Homo sapiens: one gene and its partners. The protein of the gene in region 2 interacts with the protein of the main gene of each other region in a pairwise test. Each region holds a gene or a part of one and is shown on either strand. Other genes may lie near its edges. The genes, in order: ALKBH3, GLRX3, NTF4, STAU1, METAP1, FAM118A and ZNF426.

Region 1 (3,500 bases), on a different chromosome or scaffold from region 2:
TACTTTTTAAATTATGCTTTACCTTGGGCTGTATGAATCATGAGTCATGTTCTCATCACCTGAGTTTATAAAGAAAAGTAGACAAAAATGTGCAATAATCGCTTCCTTTCAATCCTTTGGAAAAAAGGATTATTTATAAGATAAAGATGATGCACTTTAAGGTATATTTCCAAGGCCATCAACTCAAAGAAAGGGTTCTGCACTTCGAGTTTAGCTACATTTGTAGAGCCCCAGGTTTTTGGAAATCCGTTAGTGAGACCTGAAGGAATCTTCAAAAGTTTAAACTTGTATCCTGTTTACACAAAAATGGACTTTACAGGTTCTGGGGAAAAAAGGTCACTTTTTACTCATGTGTGATTATAATTTCAAACATATTAATATTCAATTTCCCAATCTTAAACAAAAGCCAGAATTGAGATGATATACAAAAACTGCATGAAATTCAATCATAGTTAAGACTAGGCCAGAAGCCAAAACTTACTACAGTCAACAACCTGAAGTACCAACATGTTTATATTTCTTCCCAAATCCCTTTCCTCAGGCAACTTTGTTAAAATCTCAGGCAAATTTTCTTACTTATTGGATCAGTATTTTAATCAAATCAGCTACCATCGTCATAGCGCAGATTCCCTTGCCACTGGCAGACAATTATGTGGACTTTACCACTTCTGAGTATTTCATGGCCTGTATTATCATTCATGTTCATCAAAATAGGCTCCAAGAAGGCTGAGGAGAAGAGAAAGCTACAGCATGGGGCACGGCAGGATAAAGCGCTGTTCCAAATGCTTGCCCACAGGAACAATGTATGTAGTAGTTATGCTCTCCATCTACATGTTACCCTATAACATAACTGATGTGTACTACCAAGAAATAGCTCTTGATCACCATATGTCATATCTTTATATGAGAAAATGAAGAAATTCAGCTCTCTGGAGGGGAGAAGAAACGGGGTATTTCTGGGCACCAGAATATTGTGAATGCATAATATTTGGAAATTGCTTGTACAGTAAAATGATTTATCCAAAAAGCATACTTAGGGAATTCTTAAGCTTCAAATCTATAAATAGGCCCAAATTTTTAAAAAGGGGCATGGTGGTGGTGAATATATGTGTGTAAAGAAACAGTAACTGAATACTTAAATACTGAGCAACAAAGAAAGTAAGTGTGAAGAACTAAAAACCATTATTATACCAAAGGCTATATATACTATAGCTTATTTGCCAATCAGGAGGCCAGAAGGATAACTCTAGGAGGAAGGCGCAGTGCTAGCATATGCTAGATGAGCTCCAGGAGGAGAAAGACAATTTCATCTTACTCATTCACTGCTACGGCCCCCGGTCTCAGGACCACTCCTGGCAACAAGCTGAGGTTCCATACATCCGGCTTGAGAAGAGGGTCTGAACTTAAATAATGAGACTGATACAGTGTCTCTCTACTATTTATGCAACAGGAGTCTTACTAAGGGCAGGATGAATTTTTCACACATGTGAACTTGGTATTTAACTGAGTGAAAGCTGTGTACAGAAGTATAATCATATCTAAAACAAATATAGCAAAAGCTGGTTTGTCTGATTCTCAAGTGGTACTCCTTGGTATATGAGAAGGCTGCTTGCCAATGTAACTGAAGGCTTAGAGAGCAAGTTCACTTAAAAAAACACCGGCAACTACCAATCCCCTAACAATGATCAAACTTTTTATGTAAACATAACCAAAGAAAGCCTAATCAATGGAAATTATACCAACAAAAGGTACTTAATGGCATATATGCAAAATCACACAATATGCTTTAAAAATACCATGCATGGAAACCCAATACACACCAGGAAAACACTCAGTCTGTTAACTGTATTCTTATGGAAGTATATCTGACGAAGAACTGACACAAGAACTAATAATGATGTGGTCTGGCTTAGGTCTATTCAAAAATCAGCCTGGGCCAGGTGCAGTGGCTCATGCCTGTAATCCCAGCACTTTGGGAGGCCGAGGTGGGCGAATCACCTGAGGTCAGGAGTTTGAGAACAGCCTGGCCAACATGGCAAAACCCCATCTCTCCTAAAAATACAAAAATTAGCCAGGGGTCCTGGCACACGCCTGTAATCCCAGCTACTCGGGAGGCTAACGCAAGTGAATCGCTTGAACTGGGGAGGCAGAGGTTGCAGTGAGCCGAGATCGTGCCACTTGCACTCCAGCCTGGGCGACAGAGTGAGACTCCCTCTCTAAAAAACAAGCAAACAAAAAAACAGCCTGTTGGTTGGCCTTCCACACCGACTGGGTCTGGTTTAACATTATAAGCTGAATGATCAGGAATGCTGGTTAGGAAGAGACACAAACACTGAAAATAAAATAATTGGCTCTTTTCTTGGCATTACTATCTTTCTTAGTCGTAAGGGACTACAGTTTTGATTTTTTAAAAAATTAATAACCCTAGTATTCCTCAAATGTCACATAATTGAGGTAAGCGCTGGGGTGGAAACTGAAGTTATTATATCGTTATTAATTTTTTGGTCACTGTTTTTCTACCTGAATGTGGACAGATCACCATCTCTGATAATCTGGCTTGAGTTTCCTCTCTCTGAAAGAGTTAGATTCACCTGTATTTCAGGAGAAGGCTAAGAAGGAACAAACATATGTGAATGCTCCCTTTCAGAAAAGTGGCCATATTACCATGAAGAACACTTAAAATAAAGGTTTCTTCAGGGACGTCCTCCTTAGCCTCCTTCCTCTTCCTTAGCCTCCCACTAGCTTGAGTCATTCTTCTAAGGCTTTCCTTCACAGCATTGATCACAATTGCAATTATTTGAGTAATAGGCAATATTTATCTACCCCAACTAGACTGTATCTCCAGGAGGACAGGGAGTTTATCATCAATGAAATGAGCCGCCAGCACCTAGCATAAGGCAGCCAATTCTTGTTGGACTTGTAAATGAATGAAGGAGCACTTTGGAAGTCAAAAGTTAACCATGGGGAAGTAGTCACTTGAAAATGTTTCATCAACAAAATGTGTATTCCCATGCTCGAAATCTGAAAGTAGAAGCTTTTAGGAGTTCTACTTTTTCCACAGACTAATAAGAGGCAGGAAGAGCATAAGAAAAAGAGAATACTCACTGGTGGTGGCTTCTTTCTCATCTCAAATGTGCGTGTGGCACCAAAACTTAGTGAAGCAATAATGGGGCACCTCCCTAGTGAGGGTTCATCATCACTGTGCCAGTCCACGCTGTCCTTCTCATTGCGATAAAGATTGCAGAGTAAGGAGTTGAAGGTGTGGCCAGTGTTCTCTTCAATGCGGTTCTTTAGTGTGCGCAGCACAGGGTGCCACTGCAATCCACAGACCAAGAAAAGGGCAAGACAGTCGCATTACACACAAAATGACAGCCGCATGGAAAAACAGAAAAGAAAGGGCAAAATCAGCCAAGTTATAACCAGGGCATGTAATAAGCAAACCACATGGAATGCAATAAACAGAAGGCAAGAAAAGTAGTTTAATTCCCTCCCATCATTTC
Region 2 (3,500 bases):
CCTGGACATAATGGAATCTCTGGCTGGTTCTGGTTTGATGAATGACTTTTAGGAAGCAGGTGCACACCTGTGCTTCCAGGCACCCATGGGTGTCATCGTAGTTCCCCAAATACCTCATTTATACTTAGTAATAGATTCATTCCAGCCAATGTGGGGGCAGTCTTTTTTGTATTATGTTAGACTGACCTGATTTGACTTTGAGATGTTGCAGTGTTTTCTCAGTGTGTTTCTGAGAAAAGAAAAAAATTATGTATTTCTAAAATTGAGATGCAGTGCAGGCAATTGGCAATGAGGGTTTCTTTTTTTACATCTCCGGTAATACTGTTGTCCCCTTTAAAAATCTGCTATAACAATGTCATTATTATGGAATGCTGCATGTATTCTAAATAACTTTTTAAACTTTAGAATTCTCAGAAAATCGACCGATTAGATGGTGCACATGCCCCAGAGTTGACCAAAAAAGTTCAGCGACATGCATCTAGTGGCTCCTTCCTACCCAGCGCTAATGAACATCTTAAAGAAGATCTCAACCTTCGCTTGAAGAAATTGACTCATGCTGCCCCCTGCATGCTGTTTATGAAAGGAACTCCTCAAGAACCACGCTGTGGTAAGAAGCTGCCTTTAACATAATATAAACAAAATGGGTGCTTTCCCAGAATGGGGTATGGTTGAGATGGGCATCCTGTTTCCAAGGATGCTATACCATACATCTTATACTTGTGTTCACATACTTTTAGAAAATCAAAAAGGTTATAATTCCCAATGACACTATATAAGAATTAGTTTGCATTATGGACTCAGCATGTTGGAACCAAAAGGGGTCTCAGAACTCATCTAATTCAGATTTTTGTTTTATACTGAAGTCCTCAGACTCAAAGATAGAGGTGACTTGCCCAAGGTCACCTGGTAAGCAGAGTTAGGATTAGGTTCCAACTACCATATTGCTGTCTCTTTTGCCTGTTTATCTACTTTTGCTGTTAACAGTTATTTTTTCTTTCTTGGCAGCCTCCTGTTTTTCACCTAGTTCAGATTCAGCAATTAAAAAATTTGCGGAATTTTTCAGTGTTTTTGTGTCCAGCCTGTGTGCTTTTGCCTCCCCTGTGTCATCACTGTCTAATGATTCTCTTCCTGCATTGCTGTCATTTCCAGTTTATAGCTGCTGGTAATGGAAAGATTCCGAATTCTTGGCTTGTAGTCACTCTTATTTTCTGTACACATGGATGCTTATAATTTTGTCCTTAAGTAAGTTTTAGAGTTATTTGACCCCTCTGGTAGTGGGTTTATGTTATTTTCTTTTTACTGTGCCTAGTACAACATTAGTATGCTGCATAATTGAGCATTTAATGCCATTTGATGATGCTGTTGAGACTCTAAGAGTATTTGTATCAACTACACAGGAGGGACTTTATTAAGATAGGGGCAGTAACATTGAGTATGCTCTTGATATGATTACAGCATGTCCAGAGTGACTTTATAAAGATAGCCAAGCTTCTAGTGTGAATTTGATTCTAAATTCTTCCCTGTAGGGTTATTAAATTACATATTAGCTTATGATAATGTCTAGTTTTAAAAATAAAGTTTCATGATGAATTCTTATTTTTTCGAGATGGAATTTCGCTCTTGTTGCCCAGGTTGGAGTGCAATGGCACGATCTCAGTGCGACGGAACCTCTGTCTACTAGGGGTCAAGCGATTCTCCTGTCTCAGCCTCCCGAGTAGCTGGGATTACAGGTGTCCACCACCATGCCCGGCTAATTTTTTTGTATTTTTAGTAGAGATAGGGTTTGTCCATGTTGGTCAGGCTGGTGTCAAACTCCTGACCTCAGGTGATCCGCCTGCCTTGGCCTCCCAAAGTGCTGCTGGGATTATAGGCGTGAGCCACCATGAATTCTGTCTTAAAAGTATCTCTTAGTTCTGCCTAAAAAATTTCCCTGCCAGTATTTATGTGTCAGATAATGCCTGCTATTTGTGTATTGCAAAGCTAACTTAGTCTGTACTAAACTAAAGGTAGCAACAGATAGTCTCTGTTGCGTTTGTTATTTTGTTTTTAACGGGGGTTGCAAATGGTTCACATTCACCTTCTTCCATGAAACATGAAAATTATTTCTTGTACTTTGTGCGGTGGCCACTAAATGGGAACTTACCACTTCAGTTGAATGGATTGTATTCAGCACCTTCATTCAGATCTCAGGTACAGTAGAACTGGCTGTGAAATGTGGGTGAAGCACACCTACAGTGAAATCTCTACAGTATTCTCTCCTTTGGGGTTGAACAGCAGCAGTCTCAGTCTTTTCTGAATGATAAACCTAATGAAAAGGCAGGTGGCAACACTGAAGCTTGGGGAAGGAGTGCTCAGAGGAGAAGGATGTCCTGGGAAGTGTGCTGCACTGGGTGTCATGCCAGGCGAGCCTCAGGCCCACCCCTGCGGCCTTAGCAACTTTGGGGACAAGTCAGGTACCCTCCTTGTGCCTTTAATTCCTTCTAGTGCTGTTGGGAACAAGATTGGCTGTTGGAGCCAATCTTGGAGGGCCTTTTCAGTGTAGATATTGTATGATTATTCAAGTAAATTAGAGAGAAACTTAGACATTTTAATTTTTCTGCTTACCTTTTACTTTATTAAACTGAATTTAAAATATACTGCTAGCATTTTTATATTTATATTAAACTTATTTAAATTATGTTTATTATAATGGAGTGAGATTTGGAAGACTGTACAAATAACAGAATAAAAAAGAAGCTTTGAAATATTTCAGGGCTGGGCGTGGTGGCTCATGCCTGTAATCCCAGCACATTGGGAGGCTGAGGTGGGCGGATCGCTTGAGATCAGGAGTTCGAGACCAGCCTGGCCAACATGGCGAAACCCCGTCTCTACTAAAAATACAAAAATTAGCTGGGCATGGTGGAGTCCTGTAATTCCAGCCACTTGGGAGGCTGAGGCAGGAGAATTGCTTGAACCTGGGAGGCAGAGGTTGCAGTGAGCCGAGATCGAGCCACTGCACTCCAGTATGGGTGACAGAGTGAAACTCTGTCTCAAAACAAAACAAAACACATTTCAGAGCCATCTGAAAACGTAGTATTATAGTTATTTAATTAATAAAAGACAATAAATATTTTGAGATACATATGGTTGAATGGTTACAGTTTCTTCTTTTAAAGTACTTCTATATAATTTTTATAACTACATTTTCAGTGGGTTTTTCTGTTTCCTGATATTTTCTGTTTCATGTCTTTCTGTCACATATAGTAAATAGATCATTTAAGAATGTTGCTGTTCTTTAATAAAATACTTAGGATTAATTGGAAAATATTTTTAAACTGTTTTCTTATGGGAACATAAGTCACCTCGACCCTCTGCTGTTCCTTTCTGAGCCTGGTTAGTGGAGCATTGTTTTTGCTCTTCTTCTGGCATTTTAGAGAAGGGCGTAGGCAAAGCTCCCTTTATAAAAGCACTGGCCATCTCATCTTGTGAACACGCACGTGGCTGCTCTTTCCTTATTTTGC
Region 3 (4,228 bases), on a different chromosome or scaffold from region 2:
CCCCCAATAAATAACTGGAGCGGCCTTGTGTGTTGCCTTGGCTGGGATGGTGAGGAGCAGGAAACACCCTAACCGGGGACACCCTCCTGCCACCTTGCCATGCTATATTTAGGCTGAGGGGGTGTGGGATGACCCTCGAGGCAGGTGTCAGTTTTCCTTCTGAAAATAGCGCAGGCGGAGGGGAGCGGAGTCTCAGGGTAGAGGTGTGGTGGGGTGAGGAGCCCCGCTGCCCTCATGACTGTCCTGAGACACTCCGGCTCCGGTCCCATCCCTGTCTTTCTCAGGGTCTCTCAGGGGCTCTGTCCCCTTCTCGGGGGGGTGGGGGGGTCTGCCCTCACGCTCTCTGGGCCTCTGTCTTCTCTCTGGGCTCCTGCCCTCCCCCACTCTCTCTAGTCTCGGTCCCCCTCTTTCTTTTGGTCTCTCCCCACTTTTCCATGTCTTCTCCCTATCTCTCCCTTCATGTCACCGCGCACCATTTCTCAAGGTAGCTGATTGTTCTTAAGACACATCTGTCTATCTCTGGTCCTATGATACCTTGCACGTCTCTTATCTGAGCTCAGGACAAGACCTTCTCCCCGGTCCCCAGCCAGGAAATTCCAGGGGAGAGGAGTATGCGGGAGCCCCCACATCCACTGTCTCCCCGGGCCTGGGGCCTTATCACTGCCCAAGCCCAGCTGGTTAATGTCTGGCGTGGAGCTCCTGGGAAGTGGGGAGGAGAGCAGAGGGTGGGAATCTGCCCCGGGATTGACACGCAATTGGCAAAAGACGGCAAAGGAATCTCAGGCCCAGACTCCTGGGGCTAATGGAGGAGGAGGCTGGGGGCTGGACTCCTGAGTCTGAGACGGGGCGGGGTTGGGAGGTGGTGGGGGGAACTGTGGGCTTAGTACTCAGGCGCCTGGGGCTGGGGGGAGAGGTGGCTGGGGTCGCAAGTCCTGGGTCTGAGGGAGGAGGGGCCGGATGCCTGGACTCCTGGGTCTGAAGGGAGGAGGGGCTGGGGGCCTGGACTGCTAGGTCCAAAGGAGGAGGCAGCTGGAAACTGGGACTCCTGTGACCAAGGCGGCCGCGTTGAACGAGCCAGGCCTGGCTTCCAAGGTCCCGGCACGCGAGTGCAAGGCAGGATCCCCCGGCCCCTCCTCTGCCGCCCGGCGCCGCCCCGCCCCCGCCCCCGACCCGGGCCCTGCGGAGCGTGAGCAGCTAGCACCCGGCGGGCCAGCGAGCGTCCCTGCAGCCAGCGAGCAGGAGGAGGAGCTGCTGCCGGGCGGAGGGCAGCCGCGGGAGCCGAAGAGGGCGCCCCAGGTAAGATCTCCACTCCTCCTCCCTCGGGATTCCGGCGTCCTGGTCGCCCTGCCCTCGGGTGGGGAGGGACGGGGGCGGGGCCGACCGGGGCGGGGCTTGGCGGAGGAAACTGAGGCAAGAGGGAAGTGTCCCAGATATGCAGCCGGTTTCCCCTGAGGGGTCTCGGAGTCCGGAACCCCCAACCCAAATCTGGAGGATGAGGAACCCGGAGTCTGCATTTCTTAGTATCCGAGAAGGAGGGGCCTGAATTCCAGAACTCCTGGGTCTGAGAGAGGAGGGCACTGGGGGCCTGGATTCCTGGGTCTGAGGGAGAAGGGCGCTGGGGGCATGGACTCCTGGGTCTGAAGGAGGAGGGCGCTGGGGACCTGGACTCCAGGGTCTGAGGGAGAAGGGTGCTGGGGGCCTGGGCCTGGACTCCTCCTGGGTCTGAGGGAGAAGGGTGCTGGGGGCCTGGACTTCTGGGTCTGAGAGAGGAGGGCGCTGGGGGCCTGGACTACTCCTGGGTCTGAGGGAGGAGGGCGCTGGGGATCTGAACTCCTGGGTCTGAAGGTGGAGGCCCTGGGGTCTGCACTACTCGGTCTGAGGGAGAAGGCGGTCCTGGTTGGGTCAGCCTGGGCTCCTTTCACTCTCCACCCTTCCCCTTTCCTGTACCGAGGAGCCAGGGCAGGCAGCCACTCCAGGTATGTGCAGAAGTCTTGGGCGGGCCCTGGCCTGTCCTGTGAGGAGGGAACATTCCAGGAAGCAGCTTGGGGAACCAGGGCTTCTTGAGTGTGGGCCCTCAGGGACCCGGGTGTCCAGGCCAGTTCCGCCCCATCTGGGAGATGAATGGGCCGAGGGGGATGTAATCTCTTCCAGCCTCCTTCATCCACTGCCTCTCCCTTCCCCTATTCTCCCTTCCCCTCCCTCCATCTGCTTCCCATCCCAGCCAGGAGCCATCACCTGGGTAGAAAAGGGGCCTCTGGAAAGGGGGCGGGGCCTTGACTCTTGGGTACCCTGCACTTGAAGAGGAACTCTGGGAAGGGGTTGTTCAGGGATTTGGCCCCTTCCCCACCTGCCTCTATAACCTGTCTATTCTTTTCTTCCCCTAGGTGGTTGCCCCCTCCCTCTCCTGAGATGTCAGGAAGGAGGGGGCCACCTGTGTCCTCCACAGGGGCCCCCCGAAGCCTGGGGACTCCCAGCCCCAGAGCTCCGAGGCGGAGGAGGTGCTGACAGGTCTGGTAACTACTGACTGTTTCCCAGTCTTCTCCACGCCACCCTTTCCCAGAACCACAGGCTTCCAGAATGTTGTAGGGAAACTGCAAAATCCGCGCCTCCACCAGCCTCTCCCAGCGCCAGGTCAATTTCACACACAGGGAAACTGAAGCCTGCCTCAGAGGGGCAGCGTTTTACCTCCTTAGTGGCAGTTTTGAGGTGAACTGGGGTCTCCCTAGGATTCCAGGTTGTGACCTTTCTCTAAATTGTGGAATGTGGCCAGGCGTGGTGGCTTGAGTCTGTAGTCCCAGCTACTCAGGAGGCTGAGGCAGGAGAATGCCATGAACTTGGGAGGCGGAGCTTGCAGTGAGCCAAGATCGTGCCACTGCACTCCAGCCTGGGCGACAGAGGGAGATTCCATCTCAAAAAAAAAAAAAAAAAAATTTTGTTTGGGACCAGGCATGGTGGCTTATGCTTGTAATCCCAGCACTTTGGGAGGCCAGGACACGACTATTGCTTGAGGTTGGGAGTTCAAGACCAGTCTGGCCAACATGGTGAAACCCCATCTCTATTAAAAATACAAAAATTAGCTGGGCACAGTGGCAGGTGCTTGTAATCCCACCTACTCAGAAGGCTGAGGCAGGAGAATCACTTGAACCCAGGAGGCAGACATTGCAGTGAGCCAGGATTGTGCCACTGTACTCCAGCCTGGCCAACAGAGTGAGATTCTGTCTCAAAAAAAAAAAATTGTTTGGAACATCCTCCAAGATGCAAGACTGTCGGTTCCTCAGAGTTGCACAGGAAGGACGGCAGAGTGCAGTTGCCCAGAGGTGAAGTCCCATCTCTGCCATTTGCTGGCTGTGTGACCGGGCACAAATCATTAACTTCTCTGAGCCTGTATTTCAACATCTGTTACTGTTAAGTAATAGTAGTTGAATTATTTTTATTTTTATTTTATTATTATTATTGTTTTTTAAGACGGAGTTTCGCTCTTGTTGCCCAGGCTGGAGTGCAATGGTTCAATCTCAGCCCACCACAACCTCCACCTCCTGGGTTCAAGTGATTGCCCTGCCTCAGCCTCCCAAGTAACTGGGATTACAGACATGCGCCACCACACCCGGGTAATTCTGTATTTTTAGTAGAGAAGGGGTTTCACCATGTTGACCAAGCTGGTCTGGAACTCCTCACCTCAGGTGAGCCGCCCATCTCGGCCTCCCAAAGTGCCGGGATTACAGGTGTGAGCCACCATGCCTGGCCTTATTTTTACTTTTGAGACAGAGTCTCACTCTTGTCGCCCAGGTGGCAGGGGAGTGGTGCACTCTCTGCTCACTGCAACCTCGGCCTCCTGGGTTCAAGTGATTCTCCTGCCTCAGCCTACTGAGTAGCTGGGATTACAGGCGTGCAGCACTATGCCCGGTTAATTTTGGTATTTTTGGTAGAGATGAGGTTTCACCATGTTGGCCAGGCTGCTCTGGAACTCCTGACCTCAAGTCATCCACCTGCCTCAGCCTCCCAGAGTGCTGGGATTAGAGGTGTGGGGCACAGTGCCTGGCCTGTAGTAGTTGAATATTTATTATTAATCTACAAGTTGCGCATTACGCAAGCCCTAGATATAGGGTCCCCCAAACTTCTAGAACAAGGGCTTCCCCACAATCCTGGCAGGCAAGCCTCCCCTGGGGTTCCCAACTTCTTTCCCCACTGAAGTTTTTACCCCCTTCTCTAATCCCAGCCTCCCTCTTTC
Region 4 (3,500 bases), on a different chromosome or scaffold from region 2:
ATCAAGAGATCTGTTCCTCTTCCTCCTAATTCTTATGGAGTCTGGAATCTAGGGTTACCTCTTCCTTAGATTGGGTGACACTTCAGATTAGTATGGAACATTTCTTTGTACTTAGCTGATTAAGTTCAAAGCTAAGTGGTCATTTCACATAGGCAGCTTAACTTAATTGTGATTTGAATTTAAGTGCTTTCTGATGTAAGACAGAATCCTTATCTCTTGTATAGCAATTTATAACTTAGAAAGTTGACCTCGTATATTTTACCTATGCAGTCAGAAGGTAGGAAAAGAATGATCCTTTCATTCCACAAAAGGAAGTTGCAGTTTGCTGAGAGGATCAGTAGTTTGCCCAAGATGAAATGGCTGGTAGATGGCCAGGTTGGAATTTAGTCCCAGGCCAGGGAATGGTTTCTTTGACTCTCTGAGTCTTGTGACCTGGGCTTTTGGTTTTAGCAGCCAGGTGCCTGTTATTACAATCAACTTGGAAGGGGGTTGTAAGTAGTGATGTGCTGGAACATGTTTAACAACCAGCTCTTCTTCGGGGAGGGTGGTTTGGTGGAATGAGCTGAATATGTATGTTATAGATATATACATGGGTGTTATATACATGTGTGTTATAAATTTTACTGACACAAAGGATGTGTGTTATAAATTATACTGACATATATGTGTGTTTTATAAATTTTACTGACAGAAAGGATGTGTAGTACAATTTATAAATAATATACACTTTATTGTAAATTTCATACATATTTCAGTGTGACAGTTACCAACGATAGTGTTATAAAATCAGACAGCACATAATGGTTTATTACTATCCAGTTCAGCAAAGGTGTTGCTCATGTCACTGACAAATACATACTGTAGATTTGAGATTTTGGTTGTAGCATGAATACTGGTTGAGATACATTTTTTTTGGGGTAGAGGGGAATGGAGTCAACTTGCTCTGTTGTCCAGGCTGCAGGGCAGTGGTGTGATCTCGGCTCACTGCAACCTCTGCCTCCCAGGTTCAAGTGATTCTCCTGCCTCAGCCTCCCGAGTAGCTGGGATTCACGGGTGCCCACCATCACGCCCAGCTACTTTTTGTATTTTTAGTAGAGATGGGGTTTCACCATGTTGGCCAGACTGGTCTCGAACTCCTGACCTCAGGTGATCCACCCACCTCAGCCTCCCAAAGTGCTGGGATTACAGGCGTGAGCCACCACGCCCGGCTGGTTGATGTTTTTTATTTATGTTAATAGGTAAGATGAAAGTAAAACAGGCTGGGCTTGATGGCTTACGCCTGTAATCCCAGCATGACGGATCACTTGAGGTCAGGGGTTCGAGACCAGCCTGACCAACATGGTGAACCCTCATTTCTGCTAAAAATAGAAAAGTTAGCCAGGCATGGTGGCACACGCCTGTAATCCCAGCTACTCGGGTGGCTGAGGCAGGAGAATCGCTTGAACCTGGGAAGTGGAGGTTGCAGTGAGCTGAGATCATGCCATTGCACTCCATCCTGGGTGAAGAAGTGAGACCCTGTCTATCCCAAAAAAGAAAAAAGAAAAAGTGAAACAATGAAGACATGTAACATCACTCATTTGTAAATGATATGAGTGGCTTCTCTGCAAAATTAGATAATTTTCAAAGACGGGAAGATATTTCAGTTTTTTGTGCTAGTTACAATGTAATGGCTGCAGACTTCTCATGCTTTTAAGATTAACCTGCTTTATTAACCTTTTCATCATTGTAGGTTTAGAGTTAGACAATAAACAGCTTATGATCTTTGATACGTAGCATTTGTATATTTCTGTGGTATAAATAGTCCCACCATGGCTGATTTCAAGCTCTCAAAGTGATACTTCCAATGGCAATGCTGGGAATAGATGTACAGTAGTTCACCATCACAGACTGTTTCCATTGTACAAATGCAATAGCTGGGCAGACCCTCAGAACACAGATGATTATAAAATGCAGTCAAAAATTACCTCTGTTAAAATAATTATCAGCTTATATAATTAAATGTTTAATACTGGCTGTGTTTAACAGCCAGCTTCCCAAACTCCTGACTATTTAATAATTAGCTCTCAGAGACAAGGAGGCCAGGTTCGGGGCACTGCTGTTATCTTGCTTCTGACCATAGTTGGTTATTTTGCTGACACACCAATTCCTGCCTGGTTGTTATTCTGAAGGTTTAAGCACTGGTCTGTGTTTTGACTTCTTTGTGCAGGTGAAGGTTGGAAACCACACTGCAGAAGGAACGGGCACCAACAAGAAGGTGGCCAAGCGCAATGCAGCCGAGAACATGCTGGAGATCCTTGGTTTCAAAGTCCCGCAGGCGCAGCCCACCAAACCCGCACTCAAGTCAGAGGAGAAGGTGAGTGCTGTGGGCTCTCTGATTGCAAGATGGTCTCTCGCCTCACCCTAGGGAACTGGGGCACCTCCAGGGGCAGGCTTCAAGGCAAGGCTTTATCTGCCTGACAGTTCAAGGAGTCCTGCTGAGGAGTGTCTCATCCATTTGGACCATAATGTGCTCAGAGGGGCCTCGCATGTCCACTGGCCCCAGGAGGCTCTGGGTTAGATCGTTGATTGTGTCAGTATCTTTGTGGTCTGGGGACGCTTTGTGGAGGGCAGCTTGCTCCTCTCTATTTGTAGGATGAGGATGAAGGGTAATTAGGACTGAAATTACTAAGTGTGATTTGCACTCTAGAAATGAAGCCTGTGTGAAAGATTTATAACTGTTAGGCTTTCGTTAATTGTGGAATAGGCTTTGATTTTTCTGGCAAAATAAGACAGTGTGACAGTAGAGACAGGCCAAATCCAAAGTTTAGGTTTGGGATTTCTTTTTTCCTATGTGAGTTAAACATCAGATGAAAATAATCCCCTGTTGAAAAATTCACGGCCAGGTGTGGTGGCTCAAACTTGTAATTTGGGAGGCTGAGGCCTTGAATCCAGGAGTTCAAGACCAGTCTGAGCAACATGATGAAACCCTGTCTCTACAAAAAATTAAAATATCAGCCAGGTATGGTGGCTTGTACCTGTAGCCCGAGCTACAAGGCTGAGATGGGAGGATTGAGCCTTGGAAGGTCAAGGCTGCAGTGAGCTGTGATCATGCCACTGCACTCAGCCTGGGCGACAGACCCTGTCTCAACAACAACAAAAAAGGAACGTAAAAAGAAAAATTCGTGTCTGCCAGAAGTGGTAAGCAGGACCTCAGCAAAAGCCATGGCTGACCTTCTTCTTTCCCATCACTGAATGGTCCTGGTGAGATAAACTTGAAATCAGGCCTGATTCATTCATGTCTGCCAGTCATATTGACAGAAACAGCATCAGTCATGGCCAGTTAATAACTGACTGGGACCCCAGATACCACCAGTATAGATCTTAGACTTGGCTTTAGGGTTTTTCATTTCAGAATCTTGTAGGACATTCAGAGTGTCCTTTGTTACTTCTTAGAAAGGTGATGTTGTGTTAGACAAAATTCTTAGGTAATAACATTTTCCCCGTAAGGGTGTTAATTTTGG
Region 5 (3,500 bases), on a different chromosome or scaffold from region 2:
GGCATTCCCAGTTACTCTGTCACACCACCTTGTTTATTCCTTTATGACCTTTTGTGCAATCTATGATTACCTCACCTGTTAGAAAAATGAGGATTTTTTTTTTTTTTGAGACGGAGTTTCGCTTTTGTTGCCCAGGCTGGAGTGCAATGGTGCGATCTCGACTCACCGCAACCTCCGCCTCCCAGGTTCAAGCAGTTCTCCTGCCTCAGCCTCGCAAGTAGATGGAATTACAGGCATGCACCACCACGCTCAGCTAATTTTGTATTTTTAGCAGAGATGGGGTTTCTCCATGTTGAGGCTGGTCTCGAACTGCTGACCTCAGGTGATCCACCCTCCTTGGCCTCCCAAAGTGCTGGGATTACAGGCGTGAGCCACCATGCCCGGCCGAGAATGTCTGTTTTTTAGTCGGAAGGTGAACTTCATGAATGATCCTATCTTGTTCACTGCCCTGTTCTCATTTCCCAGTATGATGCTCTGTATGCAGTAGGTGGCCATTAAATGTTTGAATTAATGGATAAATGCATCAAAATAGAGAGGTATACTGCTGTGTTTGAATCACAGCTCCATCATTTACTAGTTATGTGACTTGGGCAAATAACCTCTCTTTTTCAGCTGTATCTTTTTAAAATGGGGCTATTAATAATACCTATCTCAGGGTTTTGATGAAGACTAAATCCAAAGTATGTAAAGCTCTTAGCATATTAGTAAACTTAATGAATGTTAGCTCTTTTTATTGTTATACTGTTTTATGTTTAGGAAAGTAGAAATATTTTATCTAGGATGCTTAATTTTTTTTTTTTTTTTTTTTGAGACCGAGTCTTGCTCTGTCACCCAGGCTGGAGTGCAGTGGTGTGATCTCGGCTCACTGCAACCTCTGCCTCCCGGGTTCAAGCGATTCTGCTGCTTCAGCCTCCCCAGTAGCTGAGATTACAGGTGCGCACCACCACGCCTGGCTAATTTTTTTGTATTTTTAGTAGAGACGGGCTTTCACCGTGTTAGCTAGGATGGTCTGTAACTCCTGACCTCGTGATCCGCCTACCTCAGCCTCCCAAAGTGCTAGGATTACAGGCATGAGCCACTGTGCCAGCCTAGGATGTTTGATTTTAAGGAAAGCTTTTGTTCTTTAGAGGAGTACAACCAGTTTTACTTGAAAATTGAGTTTTCCAAGAGTTCTTGATGTTCGATTGTGTTTATTAATAGAAGTTTTCCTTCCTATTTAATAGTTTATGTATGTCTTTTTCATTTGTGTGTAAGAATTTTTTGAGGACAGAGGGTGTGTTTTACTCATTTTTGTATTTTCCAAAGTGCCTTGCCCACAGTAGGCCCTCATTTCCTTACATGAAAGAAAAGACATCAGTGGGCTTGCAATGGAAAACAAAGAAATTCTGTATTTACATTATCCTTTGTAAACACTGAATAGTATAGTATATTGTTGATACACTCATTTATTTGCTTATGGTTGAATTTAGTTACTTTTCAGTTTTTTAGCTGATGTTTAACTTTGTGAATAGCATAGGGCAGTTGCTGTCTCCTCTGGTTAGAGGATCAGCTGGGAGGGACCTGAGTGATCTGTAACTATTTATATTTATAAGGCATAAAAGGTAGTAAGCATAGTGTAAGTGGAAGGAGACCTGGATTTTGCTCCCATGACCTTGGGTAAGTCCCCTCCTTTGCTTAATGAAGCATCCTCTTCAATGGAGTTGAGCAGAAGGTGACTAAGAGAGCATCCAGGGTGCCTAGTAGAGCATATAGTAAATTTGGGCCTTATTGTGCATATAACCTCATATGTAATGTTATTAAAATCAGTACCAAGGAAGGCTTAAAAATCTTTGAGGGGAAATGTTACTTGTTTATGAACATTTTTGACAAATCCAATAATAGGTTCTTTAAAAGAAGTGGTAGGTAACATGATTAACTGAATCCAGGAAGAAAGTCTTTTTTTTTTTTTTTTTTAAATAACAAGACAGTTTTTCTTCTCTCTCTCTCTTTTTTTTTTTTTGAGTTGGGATCTTACTCTGTCAACCCAAGGTTGAAGTGCAGTGGCGTGATCTTGGTTCACTGCAACCTTCACCTCCCAGGCTCAAGTGATCCTCCTACCTCAGCCTCCCAGGTAGCTGGGAACACCAGTTTGAGCCACCACACCTGGCTAATTTTTTGTGTTTTTGGTAGAGACGGGGTTTCACCGTGTTGCCCAGGCTGGTCTTGAATTTCTGAGTTCCACTTTGCCTCAGCCTCCCAAAGTGTTGTCTATACAGGTGTGAGCCACTGCACCTGGCTGGAAGAAAGTCTTGTTGAGCATCTTGTAGGTTGGAGTTAGAAGGTAGAGAAGGAATTGCCGTTATAACATGCAGTATCTTTGAAATGCAACCCTGCCCTCTGAAACTTTCTCTGTCAGTAACAACATTCCTGCCAGTGCAGGGTGTTTCTGGAATTCATCTTCATTAAAGGAGATATTATCATGTTGTGCGTTTTTATTTATAGGGATTTTCTTTAAATTCCTCATGTCACTTCAGACCACCCTTAAACACTCCTGTAAGTTAGCTGAGTTTAGGTACAAATGCCATAGCTTCTTATAAGCAAAAAGATAGGATGAGGTAAAGAGAAATTATGAGTCTTTTTAAAACAAAACAAAAATAATTTCATAAATTGTTTATTGTAGAAAAATAGAAAATATGTGTGAAGATAATCAATTACCCAGAGATGATTTCTATGAAATTTTGGTGTGTATTCTTAAGAACATATTTGCGTATTTATTCATGTGCACACAGTTGTGTATGTTTTTACAAAAATGGCAACCATAATACATATAATCTTAGAGAATTTTCTCATCCTTAATGTCTTAACCAGTGTTTTGGTAGTGTCATGTCATGGCTACATTTACATGATCCTTTATAAAGACTGTTATGGGTGTACTGTCATTTGTTTATTCACTTATAGTTGAATTTAATTTCTTTTCAATTTTTTACCTTCTGTTTACTCTTCAATAAATATTCCTCGAAAATTTAAATCATTTTGACTTACTCAGGAACGTATAATAATGGTACAGGATTTGGTACATGAACCCAGAATTGAACTATCCTAAGCTAATTCTATATCCTTTTCCAGAACAGTGGTTCTCACAGTGTAGTTAGTGGATTATTGTTGGTTTGAGGGCCTTCTGGTCATCTATGAAGTTTTGGCATGAAATATACCTACATTACAGTAGAATTTGTAAAACAACAACAACAAAAAAACGAGCATCATTTGGTTGGTAGGCAATCAAAAGTTATACCAGTCTTTGAGTTACCTTTTTGGAAATTGAAGTGCTATAGGAAATGTGATCTTATACTGTTCACTTAGTTTGTGGATTGAAATCAAGTTTTAGTCATGGTTTTTTAAGGTGAATCTTTTTCATGTTTAGCATATTTGCAAAATTTTAGTTAAGTTTTAGTAAATTTCATAGGAGTGACAGACATAAGTGCATAGCTAAGCTCATTCCAGCTCTAGATATTCGGAAGAAA
Region 6 (3,500 bases), on a different chromosome or scaffold from region 2:
CTTGGTTAAGGAAACCTGAAACAGGAATAAATGTGTCCAGCTATACATGTGTGCACAGCTGTAAACTTCAAAGTTACTGTATTTTTTATTTTTAGAGACAGGGTCTTCCTCCGACGTCCAGACTGGAATAAGTGGCCTGATCACAGCTTACTGCAGTCTCTAACTCCTGGGCTCAAGCAATCCCCCCACCTGAGCCTCCAGAGTAGCTGGTATCACAGATGTCCACCACCAAACCCAGCTCTTTTTTTTTTTTTTTTTTGGAAACAGAGTCTTGCTCTGTCACCCAGGCTGGAGTGCAGTGGTGCGATCTTGGCTCACTGCAAGCTCTGCCTCCCGGGTTCATGCCATTCTCCTGCCTCAGCCTCCTGAGTAGCTGGGACTACAGGTGCCCGCCACCATGCCCAGCTAATTTTTTGTATTTTTAGTAGAGACGGGGTTTCACCGTGTTAGCCAGGATGGTCTCGATCTCCTGACCTCGTGATCCACCCACCTCAGCCTCCCAAAGTGCTGGGATTACAGGCGTGAGCTATCGCGCCCGCTCCAAACCCAGCTAATTTTTAAAAACATTTTTGTAGAGACCAGGTCTCCCTATGTTGCCCAGGTTGGTCTTAAACTCCTGGGCTCAAGCAATCCTCCTGCCTTGGCCTCCCAAAAAACTGGGATGACAGGCGTGAGCCACGGTGCCCAGCCTGAAGTTACTTTAAAGTTCTAGTTACAGACTGTCACTAGGACACCAATTACTCCAATCTTCTAATTTTAAATTACAGAGGCAGTTTTAAAAAATAATAACGAAGACTGGTGAATTTTAGGGGTATGTGGGTTCCATCAAAAAAAGACAGAGAGAAACAACTGGAAGAGCCCTGTGAGTTTTGTACTTGAAAAGTGAAGACAGGCCGGGCGCGGTGGCTCTCGCCTGTAATCCCAGCACTTCAGGAGGCCAAGGCAGGTGGGTCACCTGAGGTCAGGAGTTCGAGACCAGCCTGACCAACATGGTGAAACCCTATCTCTACTAAAAATACAAAATTAGCCAGGCATGGTGGCGCATGCCTGTAATGCCAGCTACTCGGAAGGCTGAGGCAGAATCCCTTGAACCTAGGAGGCGGAGGTTGTGGTGAGCCAAGATGGTGCCATTGCACTCCAGCCTGGGCAACAAGAGCAAAACTCCGTCTCAAAAAAAAAAAAGAAAAAAGAAAGAAAAAGGAAAGTGAAGCCAGATCCCATACCTGGGCTTTGCTGTTTGCAGATCTGAGTGGCAAGGTCTTGCACATATCCTGGAAAGTGGTCAAAACAGTCCCCGTAGGATACAACTTTGATTCCGTGCAGAAGCATATCTGCCTGATGCTTAAAGAAATGGTCTTCATTCTCCTTCAGCACAAGCATGTAGTGCTCCAAATCCACCTTATTCGGCACGGAGTAAAGAAAGAGGGCCTGGAATATCTGATCACGAAGGGTCTCCCCACAGCCCACAAACAGAAAGGACTTGGTGCGGTATAAGTTCTGGAGGACTTCCTAGAAAAGGCCAATGAAGAAATTGAGTGCTCATTTGAAAGACAGCAAGAGCTTACAACTAACCAAGTCACATGTGTGTGCTTTTACATCACTGCTCCCTGACAGGCGTTCCCAGGGCCACGCTGAGGAGCACAGTTAGAAGGACAGTATCCTTCCCGACATGGCACTCAGGCCACCCCCCAGCAGCAGCCTGTGGCAGCAAAGACCAAAGCTGGGCTGAGCCTGCCTGTCCCCAGCTAAGCCAGGGTAGCTGGTCTTTGGCCGAGGCGGGTGGCAGTGCCCACACCCCTAACAGCAAGGCCAGCCCATCGCCCACCCCACACACTCACCAGTGCAGTCACCCAACTCAAATCTTCTCAAATTGGGTACGATTTTAAATTATTAAAACACAAAATGAGGACAGTAAATGTTTTCAGTTCAGAATTATGCACATAAAACACCCTGAAATTAATGTTGATCTCAGTGGGCCATATGTGGGAATTCTTGCAGGGGTGGTTTTGCGAATGAGGGCAAGAGAGCTGAGGAGGGGATCAGTGACCATGACTGACGGGGTCGGGTGGGCACAGGGAAAGCAGATTGCATGGGGTCACTCAGGCAGGCAGGAGGGAATCGCCAATGCAGCTAACCAAATATCTCAGAGAGGCTCAGTCTCAGCCCAGGTATTTCTTATCACCAAGCAGTATTAATGATGCAACTGAAAAGCATCTGCCCAGTCACTCATCTGCTGACACCTGTCACGGAATGACACCGGCCCAGGGATGAGCACTGAGGAACAGGGCGCCTAGCTGTGTGCTTGAGGGTAAATCCACAGACACCGAGTTTCTCAGTGCTTACCAGAAGCACAGCTTTTCCACACTGCATTCTAGGGCATCAGGAAGACCTCACAGCCGGGAGTAGGGGCACACACCTGCAGTCCCAGCTACTCGGGAGACTAAGGCAGGAGGATCCTTGGGCCCAGGAGTTCAAGGAAGCAGTGAGCTTTGATCATGCCACTGCACTTCAGCCTGGGCCACAGAGCAAGACCCTGTCTATTTAAGAAGAAGAAAAATAAAACCTCACAGAGAATGAAGTGTTATTTACTTTTATTTATTTATTTTTTTAGAAATGAGGTATCGCTCTGTTGCCCAGGCTGGAGTGCAGTGGTGCGATCCCAGTTCACCATAGCCTCTCCCTCCTGGACTCAAGCAATCCTCCTGCCTTGGCCTGCCAAAGCACTGAGATTACAGGCATGAGCCACTATACCAGGCCAAAAATGAAGCTTTACAACTACAGGAAGGAGAGCAGAGAATTTCAGACCAGAAGAAGCCTGGAAGAACAAGGACAACATTCTAGACTGCACGGGGCCTATATGTCATGCTGAGGAGTTTCACTATATACCTGGGCAGGTGAGAACCACCAAATGGCCAGGGCTCCTAGAGAGGGTACAGGCAGATCTCTGCTTTGAAAGGAATCATGAATTCCTTCCTCCAACAAATGTTCGCCAAGCATCTACTCAACATGGAGGCACCATGCGGGACCCCAGAGACACAGACGAGGACAAGAGACGTGGCCCCTCCCTCAGCAACTGTGTGCAGGGCCGACCTGAAGGGCACGGACGCCTGGAGCCTGGGAAGCCACTCAACTGCAGCCAATGGCCAGTGGCCACCAGTAATCCCTGAGAGGACGCACCGATGCTAATTAGGACGGGCCGTACCATGACTTCTGCGTCTTGAGTGACGTCTTTATACCCCGATGGGTCCAGCACCACCCCGCAGGGGTCCGTGTAGAGGCCGTGAATGTGGAGGACGCCGTACTTCATGTGCCCTCTTGCCCATTCAAGGACCTACCAAACATCAAGCCAAGAAAAAGAAACACATCCTCAAACTGTTTCAAACAGAGAGAAGAAAATACTGAAAATGGATTCATAGTTTTTAAACCTATCTTGGAAAGAATCATCGAGAGATGCTTCACTTTACACTTATACCTTCAAAACCTAAGAGAAACTTGGTTGT
Region 7 (3,500 bases), on a different chromosome or scaffold from region 2:
CAGTGTAGATACATTGGACAAAAGGATGATTCACACCCCAGGCAGGATGACATAAGGGTTCATCATACTACTGAGAATGGTGAGAAATTTAAAACTTATGTTTTGTTTATTTCTGGAAATTTTTCTTTTTTTCTTTTTTTTTTTTTTTTTTTTGTGGGGTGGGGGTCAGTGGCCAGGGTCTCACTCTATCACCCAGGCTGGAGTACAGTGGTGCAATCACATCTCACCACAGCCTTGACCTCCTAGTCTCAATCCATCCTCACAGCTCAGTCTCCTGAGTTACTGGGACAGCAGGTGCGTCCCACCACCCTCGGCTAATTTTTGTATTTTTTGTAGAAACAAGGTTCTCGGTATGTTGCCCAGGCTGGTCTTGAACTCCTGGGCTCAATGATTCACCCACCTAGGCCTCCCAATGTGTGGGGATTACAGGTGTGGGCCACCATGCCTGGCCGAGTTTCCCATTTAATATTTTTGGACCATGGTTGAATGCAGATAACTGAAACCGTGAAAAGTGAAATCACAGACAAGGGGGGACTGCTCTGTAAATAAAAGCGTGTGGGAAGTTAAATATTTCCTAACTTTCTCTAAACCTTGGGGTTTAGAGTGCAGGGAGAAAGTACATGTTAAAAAGTTTCCTAATTATGCTTTCAAACATACTGAACTTCTCATCAACCAGAGTTGTTCTTCATGAACACTCACCTTGGAGAACTCCTCCCTGAACTGTCCTTGACTCTTCTTGTTCCAACCAAGAGATTAGACTGGGTTTGATGATCTGACCTCCTGAGCACAGAGAAATACATTAATGGAAGAGGCTCATAAAAAAGATTACAAACCTTTCTGTGATTCAGGAACTACAGATCTAATGAAAGTGGTGAAGCTATTTCAAAAGGGCGAAAAATGCAAATAACAACTCTGACTGTGCCCCAAACAGTCTGGTTACTTCTGTCCCCTAAACCGAAATTCAGGCTTATGTACACATTTAAAAAGCACTGAGACTTTTATTCAAACACAAAATAATGGCCGAGTGTGGTGGCTCATGCCTGTAATCCCAGCACTTTGGGAGGCTGAGGCAGGTGGATCACTTGAGGTCAGGAGTTCGAGACCAGCCTGGCCAACATGGTGAAACCCCATCTCTTCTAAAAATACAAAAAAAAAAAAAAAATAGCTGGGTGTGGTGGCGCATGCCAGTAATCCCAGCTATTCGGGAGGCTGAGGCCCAAGAATCGCTTGAACCCAGGAGGCAGAGATTGCAGTGAGCTGAGATCATGCCAGTGCACTCCAGCCTGCGTGACAGAGTGAAACTGTCTCAAAACAAGAACAACAACAAATAAGGAATAAGGAAGTATAACAGAGATCTTCATTCTTCTGGGGAAACAACTACCCCAGTGTTTTTTAAAACATTATTGTGCATCAGAGTCATCCAGAGAACTTGTTCAAACACAGATTATTGGGCTTCAACTCCAGGTTTCTGGGTGGAGAAGGAAAATGTACATTTCTAACAGGCAGATGGTGTTGCTATTAATCTTGGACCACATTTTCAGAATGGTCACAGTAGATTAAAATCTATTTAGGACAGGGACTATGTCTCTGTTATTTCTCTTTGCATTCAGAGTTGACATTGCCAATGCTGCAAAACAGTAAGTACAAAACATATCAGTTCCATAGAAGGCTGCAAGGGATGAGGCCAGTCTTACCTACTGTGGCCAGGTTCTTGTAGTTCTCCAGCATCACGTCACTGTAGAGGCTTCTCTGAGTTGAGTCCAGTAAAGTCCACTCCTCCTGGGTGAAGTCCACAGCCACATCGTCAAAGGTCACTGAATCCTAAAGCATCACACACATGCTGGTTGGAGCCAAGTAACAAGCCCATCAGCGTTCGCTGGAGGATGAGGAAGGGGGACCCAATGCCTATGCAGGATTCCAAGGGCTGCAGTGACCAGCCCCAGGTTTTAAGGGTCCTAGAAACTCCTCGCACCCTAAACATACTCACTGTCATCTCCTCCACTCATAGTGCATTAATGGCACTTCTTGAATATGAATTTATCTCAGCACAACCAGACTAGGAGATCTCTTTTTTTTTTGAAATGGACTCTTACTCTGTTGCCCAGGCTGGAGTGCACTGGTGCAATCTTGGCTCACTGCAACCTCCACCTCCCAGGTTCAAGCAACTCTCCTGCTTCAGCCTCCTGAGTAGCTGAAATTACAGGCACACGCCACCATGCCCGGCTAATTTTTTGTATTTTTAGTAGAGATAGGGTTTCAGCATACTGGCTAGGTTGGTCTCGAACTCCTGACCTCATGATCCGCCCCCTTCAGCCTCCCAAAGTGCTGGGATTACAGGCATGAGCCACTGTGCCCGCCCAAGATCTCATCTTATTTCCATCTATTTGAGCGCATTGCTCAGCACATTCCAGACATCTGATCAATGCTGATAAACAACTTAAAGGACACTTTTTTTTTTAATTTTTTTGAGACGGAGTCTTGCTGTGTTGCCCAGGCTAGAGTGCAGTGGTGCAATCACAGCTCACTGCAGCCTCAACCTCCAGGGCTGAAGTGATCCTCCCACTTCAGCCTCCAAAGTAGCTGGGAGTCCAGTCATGTACCACTTTGCCCAGCTAATTTTTAAATTTTTTGTAGAGACGGGGTCTCACTATGTTGCTCAGGCTGATCTTGAACTCCTGTACTCAAGCAATCTGCCTGCCTCAGCCTCCTAAAGTGCTGGGATTATGGGTGTAAGCCACCATGCCCGGCCTGGGATGATTTCCAAGTTAGCACCTCCCTATATGGGTGGCCCCAACCCTTGGGGAAATTCAAATGGGGATTCAGTCCTTGAGTGACACTTTATTTGCTTTAAGAAGCCTGGAGACCGGAGCTTGCAGTGAGCCGAGAGCATAGCACTGCACTCCAGCCTGGCAACACAGCGAGACTCCCTCTCAAAAAAAAAAAAAAAAAAAGAAGTCTGGAGACAACTCTGCCTAGAGGGAAATGTGTCTACCTGGTGGATGCAAGTATGTCACTATGTATAAGAATACAGCTGCTTTTTACCTGATAACAATCTGTTAGGCAGTCAGCCACTATTCTTCCTGCTGGTGTCTTTTCTTCATGAAGGCAAACTGGGTCCCCAGAAAGATAATGTCCTGTAAGAAAATGAAGGCAAGAGAACCCCGAGCTGACCATAATCCCCACATCCACCTACCTAGAGGTCATTACCTCCTAGTATGAAATTCCCATATATTCCTGCAAAATCAGGAAAACACACATAAGGCCAGTTGCAGTGGCTCACATCTGTAATCCTAGTGCTCTGGGAGGTTGAGGTGGAAGGATTACTTTAGGCGAGAAGTTTGAGATCAGCCTGGGCAACACGGTGAGACCCCGTCTCTACAAAAAAATTTTAAAATGAGCCTGGTGTGGTAACACACACCTGTAGTCCCATCTCCTTGGGGAAGCTGAGGCAAGAAGATTGCTTAAGCCTAGGAGTTCGAGACTACCCTGGACAACACAGT

Evidence for each region.
Region 1: the proteins of GLRX3 (region 2) and ALKBH3 interact in binary tests that used the Homo sapiens proteins (3 or more experiments, as listed by UniProt).
Region 3: the proteins of GLRX3 (region 2) and NTF4 interact in binary tests that used the Homo sapiens proteins (3 or more experiments, as listed by UniProt).
Region 4: the proteins of GLRX3 (region 2) and STAU1 interact in binary tests that used the Homo sapiens proteins (3 or more experiments, as listed by UniProt).
Region 5: the proteins of GLRX3 (region 2) and METAP1 interact in binary tests that used the Homo sapiens proteins (3 or more experiments, as listed by UniProt).
Region 6: the proteins of GLRX3 (region 2) and FAM118A interact in binary tests that used the Homo sapiens proteins (3 or more experiments, as listed by UniProt).
Region 7: the proteins of GLRX3 (region 2) and ZNF426 interact in binary tests that used the Homo sapiens proteins (3 or more experiments, as listed by UniProt).

Annotation. Positions count from the first base shown.
Region 1 is NC_000011.10:43,901,331-43,904,830, reverse strand, and holds part of ALKBH3 (alpha-ketoglutarate-dependent dioxygenase alkB homolog 3), read right to left. Parts: intron 3,316-3,500; coding exon 3,106-3,315; intron 1-3,105. UniProt on the Homo sapiens protein: Dioxygenase that mediates demethylation of DNA and RNA containing 1-methyladenosine (m1A). Repairs alkylated DNA containing 1-methyladenosine (m1A) and 3-methylcytosine (m3C) by oxidative demethylation. Has a strong preference for single-stranded DNA.
Region 2 is NC_000010.11:130,160,391-130,163,890, forward strand, and holds part of GLRX3 (glutaredoxin-3), read left to right. Parts: intron 1-405; coding exon 406-607; intron 608-3,500. UniProt on the Homo sapiens protein: Together with BOLA2, acts as a cytosolic iron-sulfur (Fe-S) cluster assembly factor that facilitates [2Fe-2S] cluster insertion into a subset of cytosolic proteins.
Region 3 is NC_000019.10:49,062,019-49,066,246, reverse strand, and holds the start of NTF4 (neurotrophin-4 preproprotein), read left to right. Parts: upstream 1-1,428; 5' UTR 1,429-2,508; exon of another isoform or gene 2,509-2,631; intron 2,632-3,496; exon of another isoform or gene 3,497-3,590; coding exon of another isoform or gene 3,591-3,608; intron 3,609-4,228. UniProt on the Homo sapiens protein: Target-derived survival factor for peripheral sensory sympathetic neurons. May promote ameloblast differentiation and subsequent reduction in proliferation of ameloblasts.
Region 4 is NC_000020.11:49,118,835-49,122,334, reverse strand, and holds part of STAU1 (double-stranded RNA-binding protein Staufen homolog 1), read left to right. Parts: intron 1-2,206; coding exon 2,207-2,353; intron 2,354-3,500. UniProt on the Homo sapiens protein: Binds double-stranded RNA (regardless of the sequence) and tubulin.
Region 5 is NC_000004.12:98,998,721-99,002,220, forward strand, and holds part of METAP1 (methionine aminopeptidase 1), read left to right. Parts: intron 1-3,500. UniProt on the Homo sapiens protein: Cotranslationally removes the N-terminal methionine from nascent proteins. The N-terminal methionine is often cleaved when the second residue in the primary sequence is small and uncharged (Met-Ala-, Cys, Gly, Pro, Ser, Thr, or Val).
Region 6 is NC_000022.11:45,330,434-45,333,933, reverse strand, and holds part of FAM118A (protein FAM118A), read right to left. Parts: intron 3,332-3,500; coding exon 3,203-3,331; coding exon of another isoform or gene 3,178-3,202; intron 1,510-3,177; coding exon 1,224-1,509; intron 1-1,223.
Region 7 is NC_000019.10:9,532,146-9,535,645, forward strand, and holds part of ZNF426 (zinc finger protein 426), read right to left. Parts: intron 3,135-3,500; coding exon 3,043-3,134; intron 1,822-3,042; coding exon 1,695-1,821; intron 781-1,694; coding exon 700-780; intron 1-699. UniProt on the Homo sapiens protein: May be involved in transcriptional regulation.